2 separate regions of the Homo sapiens genome follow, and region 2 is linked to region 1. The links come from fine-mapping of genetic effects on gene expression. A gene starts in region 1. The other region holds a variant in brackets. All regions are shown on one strand. Distances are between the middles of the regions.

Region 1 (2,905 bases):
GCCAGGCTGGTCTTGAACTCCTGACCTCAAGTGTTCCACATGCCTTGGCCTCCCAAAGTGCTGAGATTACAGGTGTGAGCCAGTTCACCTGTCAAAAGAAAGAAAATTTTTAAAAAGTCTCTCGGAGATGTCTTTCCTGTTTGGTGCCACCTGAATAGTGGCAAACCTTTCCATTATGTATCAGGTCACCACCGCATCTGCTAGAAGCCCCCCTCGTCCAGGGTGGGATGACCTGCTCCTATAAAGCCAAACTTACCGGGAGCTCAGTCTCTTGGATTTTTAAAATATGGGTGTCTCTTTTCCCCGGTTCCTGATGACATTGTGTCCCAAGGTGCCAAGGGGGCCTTTCCCTCAGTCCAGAGGGGTTTTCTGACCACCTGCTAAGTTCCAGACACGGGCCGACTGTGCATGACAGGCCCACGGTTCTAGGCCCAAATACTCAGTTGCCTTTGCCCCATATGCTGTTATTGTCCACATCACTTGCTGCCAAAACCCAGGACTGAGCTGTGGAGGGAACAGCTGGAATGCACCTTGGAGGACGTTGTTGACACGCCGCTCAGTCGCCGTTCGTGCCCTGGTGTTTGTCTTGCAGACAGAGGCTCCGTGGTGAAGGCGCGCGTGCTGACCTGTGTGGAGGGGATGAACCTGCCCTTGTTGGAACAAGCCATCCGGGAGCAGAGACTGTACAAGCAGGAGCGGGGCGGCAGCCAGTAGGAAACAGCAGCCTAGCAACACCCTCACCTGCTTCAGAGCCCGAACCCTCTGGAGCTGCAGGAGCCCGGGAGAGCACAGACGCCTCCCCAGCGACGGCCTTGTCTGGAGCTCGAAAGCCGAGGGGCGGGTGATGAATCCAGCCCCTTCCCCTACTTTGGGATTGGCTCAGCAATGAGAACCCAGAAAGCATGCCATAAATCCGACAGCCCCACCCCAGGAGACTGCAGGTGGCCGAGCTTGGGCGCCGGGGCCGTGCTTGGTGTGGGGCCATGGAGGGTTCCAGAAGGTCCTGGTGAATAAAGGCCCAGGGGGCGTGCTCTTGAAGTGTGCTCGTGGTGCAGCGCCGGCGGGGGCCAGGAGGGGGAGCTGCAACCCAGGCTGTGGGCTGCAGCCTCTCAGGGCTTCTGGTGAATTCTGGGCCTGGGGCCTCAGGGTAGGGCACCAGGGGCCCAGGGGCTGGGGTGGGGGGCCCAGGATGCAGGGGTCTGCCCCTGGCCAGGCTCTGCCTTCAGAGGAGGCTGAGCGTCGTCACACGGGCCGGGCTGAGGCCCTGGGCCCTGACCGTGCAGCCTAAGACAGGACTGTGGCTTTAAGACCCTCCTGACCCCTGACCTCTGCCCCCAGTGGCCCTGGCCCCTGGGCAGCCCTTCCTGGCCGCCATGTGTACCCAGAGCCTGGGACTGGCTGGGCTGGGCAGTGACCCAGGTGGGAAAGGGTGGTCTTGCCCTCTAAGGCCCGGCACAAGTGAGAGGCCTGGGGGTCCATGTTGGGCTGGGCTGGGCGAGGGGTGGTCTCTGACTTCCTGGGGGTTCTGGCTGGGATGGGCAGGGGGCTGGGTGGGAGAGTGTGGGCCCTGCCCTCCGAGGCCGGGCATGGGCGAGAAGCCTGGGGGTCCTGGCTGAACTGGGCTGGGTGAAGGGGGCCCCCTGACCCCCTTGGGGTCCGGGCTGGGCTGGGTGAGGGGCGGTTTCCGACCCCCAGCCAGGTTCCCAGGCAGGATGAGCTGGGGTTGGGGTGGCTAGGCCGTGGGCCTTGGGAGCTGGGCAGTCTGGGCTGGGCTGGGCTGGGCAGGGCGCCACATGGAAGCTGGAGGAGCAACGGGAGCGCTGGGCGTGGGGTGCAAATTGCCCGGTGCCTTCTGTTTCCCAGGCAGCTCTGTGGCCATGGATATGTTCCAGAAGGTAGAGAAGATCGGAGAGGGCACCTATGGGGTGGTGTACAAGGCCAAGAACAGGGAGACAGGGCAGCTGGTGGCCCTGAAGAAGATCAGACTGGATTTGTGAGTGCTGGGACGGCCCCTGAGTTACCCACCCTGGGCCATCACAACCTGGGCGCTCCCTGATCCGTTCCCTCTTTCCTGGAGTCCACGTTTAACTCCTCTGGGTGCTGCCCAGCAGCCCTTACCTGTCCTCTCCCCAGTTCACTGCCTTCTGACCAGCCTTTGCCGGGGCCCTGACTGTGGAGTTTGGTGGATGACGTGCCAAGGAGCACAGGTCTCCATTGCCGGGGCCCTGGTCATTCTGTGGGGTTAAGGAGAAGCCGATCCCCCTGGCTGGAAGTGCCCTTCTTGGCCCAAGTCTCTGCCCACGGCTGTGCCCTTGTTTCTTGCAGGGAGATGGAGGGGGTCCCAAGCACTGCCATCAGGGAGATCTCGCTGCTCAAGGAACTGAAGCACCCCAACATCGTCCGGTGAGTTGGGGATTGAGGTGGGGAAGCTGGGATGGCGAAGGTAGCATCCTGACTGCCATCTCCCTGTCAGACTGCTGGACGTGGTGCACAACGAGAGGAAGCTCTATCTGGTGTTTGAGTTCCTCAGCCAGGACCTGAAGAAGTACATGGACTCCACCCCAGGCTCAGAGCTCCCCCTGCACCTCATCAAGGTAGGGAAGGAAGGGCAGGGAAGGAGAGGTGACACCCCATCCCTGCCATCCCTGTCCACGCAGCACCTCCGCTCAGCTGGCTGCACCTCGCGCTCGTTTCTCCAGAGCTACCTCTTCCAGCTGCTGCAGGGGGTGAGTTTCTGCCACTCACATCGGGTCATCCACCGAGACCTGAAGCCCCAGAACCTGCTCATCAATGAGTTGGGTGCCATCAAGCTGGCTGACTTCGGCCTGGCTCGCGCCTTCGGGGTGCCCCTGCGCACCTACACCCATGAGGTATTGTGAGACAAAGAGGAGAGAGGGGCAGCAGG
Region 2 (2,905 bases), 25 kb before region 1:
TTCAAAGAGCAAAAATAACTCCATAGAACACTTATTTATAGCGCTGTTAACAAGAGCTCCAAGGAAGAAATAATTTCAACTATGTTTCCCTAGATAATATAAGCAAATATCCAAAAGAGTAAATACATATTCCAGGGCAGAATCATACATCGCTAAAGGTCTTCAGGGTTTACAATAAGTAATGTGGGCATGTAAAAATTTATCCCCAATGGTCAATGAACATTACTACGGATTAACTCTACATCACATTGAAATTTAGTCCTCAACTCTCTTCTTACAAAACAGAATCCACAGTAGTTGGCCTTGGCTGTGCTGTGTCATAGATTTTATAGGGATCAATTTTGTACTTTGACAAAGCTCGTATCTAAAAAGTTTAAAGTACAAAATACATCTCATCTAACTGATCTTCACGACTTCTCAACACATGATTAGGAAGCAATGTTACTACCAGTTTATCCTAACCTGTGCAATGAGCAGAGCATGAACTAAAGGACAGAAGGGATAGGCTGCCATTGCAGTGCTGGGGGACCCTGAAACCAAACTACCACCTTAAAAGAAATAATAGTAGCCGGGCGCGGTGGCTCACGCCTGTAATCCCAGCACGTTGGGAGGCCAAGGCGGGTGGATCACGAGGTCAGGAGATCGAGACCATCAGATCGAGACCATCCTGGCTAACATGGTGAAACCCCGTCTCTACGAAAAATACAAAAAAAAAATTAGCCGGGTGTGGTGGTGGGCTCCTGTAGTCCCAGCTACTCAGGAGGCTGAGGCGGGAGAATGGCGTGAACCCGGGAGGCGGAGCTTGTAGTGAGCCGAGATCGCACCACTGCACTCCAGCCTGGGCGACAGAGCGAGACTCTGTCTCCAAAAAAAAAAAAAAAAAAAAAAAGAAAGAAAGAAAGAAATAATAGTAAACACAATATACCCTTATTTTTCTATTTCCTAAATAAGTACTACACGGTTATCCCCGCCATTTCTTTTTTTTTCTTTTTTGGAGACAGTCTCCCTCTGTTGCCCAGGCTGGAGTACAGTGGTGTGATCCCAGCTCACGGCAACCTCTGCCTCCTAGGTTCAAGTGATTCTCATGCCTCAGCCTCCCAAGTAGCTGGGATTATAGGCGTGTGCCACCAAGCCCGGTTAATTTTGTATTTTAGTAGAGAAGGCGTTTTGCCATGTTGGCCAGGCTGGTCATGAAGTGGCCTGGCCTCAAGTGATCTGCCCACCTCAGCCACCCAAAGTGCTGGGATTACAGGCGTGAGCCACCATGCCCCAGTCCCATTGTCTTTTCTATCTTACATAAATCATAATCCACTTAGAAACAAAAAACTCTCAACATGGATGCTCTTAGATACGAATATTTCTAATTAATCAAAATGAATTAATGTAATCATTATAGATTCCACCAGAGGGAACGACTTCTGCGTCCTAATCATGTGTTTAGAAGCTGCTCATTAACATCAGTTAAAAATGTTTTCTCAGCCAGGCGCAGTGGCTTATGCCTGTAATCCCAGCATTTTGGGAGGAAGGGGCGGGTGGATCACAAGGCCAGGAGTTCGAGACCAGCCTGGCCAACATGGTGAAACCCCATTTCTACTAAAAATACAAAAGTTAGCTGGGTGAGGTGGCAGATGCC[T/G]CTTCACCTGCTGATAATGGAAATAAATGGAAATGCAGAGAGAGAGAGAGAGAGAGAAAGAAAGAGAGAGAAAGAAAAAGAAAGAGGAAGAGAAAGAGAAAGAAAAAGAAAGGAAAAGAAAGAAAAGAAAAGAAAGAAAGAAAGAAAAGAAAAGAAAGAAAGGTGATGTATTTCACAATTAATAGCATGTCACGGTTAACTGGCAGCATTCTTTCTTTCTTAGTGGTACACAAAACACTGGTGTGAGTTATAATCGATGAGATTATATAACCGAGGCTTTAACTCGATAGCATGCGATAATTTCCAGGACTCATTTACAAACCCCTTCTCTTACTTAAAAACTGATCTCCTTGTCATATCCTAAGGACATTGGAAGTGTGTCAAAGGGTGTGTTAAAGTTTGTACTTTAATACTTCACATGAAAAATGATACACAAAACAACTTCCCGGTGTCCATGAATCTTTAACCCGCATAAAAGACTTTGTTCTATTTCATTGTGACCTCACTCGAGTCTGGTTCACATTATCAACAGGTCACAGGTTATGAAATCATCTCTATCAGCTTTGAAATGCACTGCACCACCCATTCAAACACACACACACACACTCAACCCACTTTTTTCCTGACGTTTCAAGAAGGAATAAAATCTTACTAATTTTTTCAAATTTACAAACACAACACAGGTATCAGTAACATAATCTTCTAGGAGGAGTTACTCTATCTCAATATCCCCACAGCCATGAGTTACAAACTTCAAAAACAAAACAGACCATTTGGAAGTATGCTGATTTGAACTACCAAAAATAAATAAACAAAATTTTTTCGTTTAAAACTGAGTGGAGCTCTGAGGAAAGTCCAAAGTGCCAGAGTAAACCATTTCATCTTCACAAAAATAACCCAAGTCAAGCTGAAAATCGATACCAAAGGCACTAGAGGCAGTGACCATTATTACCATAAAGGCAGAACGTGCAACATGTTCTATTTAGCTTGGTTCTAGTCTATACACCACTCATACGATTTAGTCTTTACCGATGAAAATACTGGAGTTCCTTTAAAATGGAGAAACCTAAAAGAGAAAATGCCCAGGAATAAATGAGAAAAAAATGCTATAGGCCAAAATAATCTTGTACTAGGATCATGTAATAGTGTTTGTTTAGGTTAAGGCAAAAAAGTCTTTTTTTTTTTTTTTTTTTTTTTTGAGACAGAGTCTCTCTTTGTTGCCCAGTCTGGAGTGCAGTGGCGTGATCTCGGCTCAGTGCAGCCTTTGCCTCC

The links. PIP is the estimated chance that this variant, and not a neighbour inherited with it, causes the effect.
Region 2: its variant is fine-mapped to the expression of CDK3 in whole blood (TOPMed, PIP above 0.99). The same link has a PIP of 0.9 or more in blood mononuclear cells.

The regions. Positions count from the first base shown.
Region 1 is chr17:75,999,549-76,002,453 of GRCh38, forward strand. It overlaps CDK3 (cyclin dependent kinase 3), which reads left to right and starts at 1,307. Exons shown (of 8, transcript NM_001258.4): 1 at 1,307-1,419; 2 at 1,864-1,993; 3 at 2,326-2,403; 4 at 2,474-2,594; 5 at 2,700-2,870. The coding sequence starts at 1,878. TEN1 (TEN1 subunit of CST complex) reads left to right here. Exons shown (of 4, transcript NM_001113324.3): 4 at 593-1,038. The coding sequence ends at 714. TEN1-CDK3 (TEN1-CDK3 readthrough (NMD candidate)) reads left to right here. Exons shown (of 10, transcript NR_037709.1): 4 at 593-1,993; 5 at 2,326-2,403; 6 at 2,474-2,594; 7 at 2,700-2,870. LOC124904061 (a long non-coding RNA gene) reads right to left here and starts at 1,012. Exons shown (of 2, transcript XR_007065911.1): 1 at 257-1,012; 2 at 1-88. RefSeq lists an enhancer at 934-983 and a silencer at 1,114-1,193.
Region 2 is chr17:75,974,185-75,977,089 of GRCh38, forward strand. All of the region lies in intron 2 of ACOX1 (acyl-CoA oxidase 1), which reads right to left. Among named protein-coding and RNA genes, the nearest start is that of ACOX1, 3.5 kb to the right of the region's middle. The variant T/G (reference allele first, on the strand shown) is at 1,634.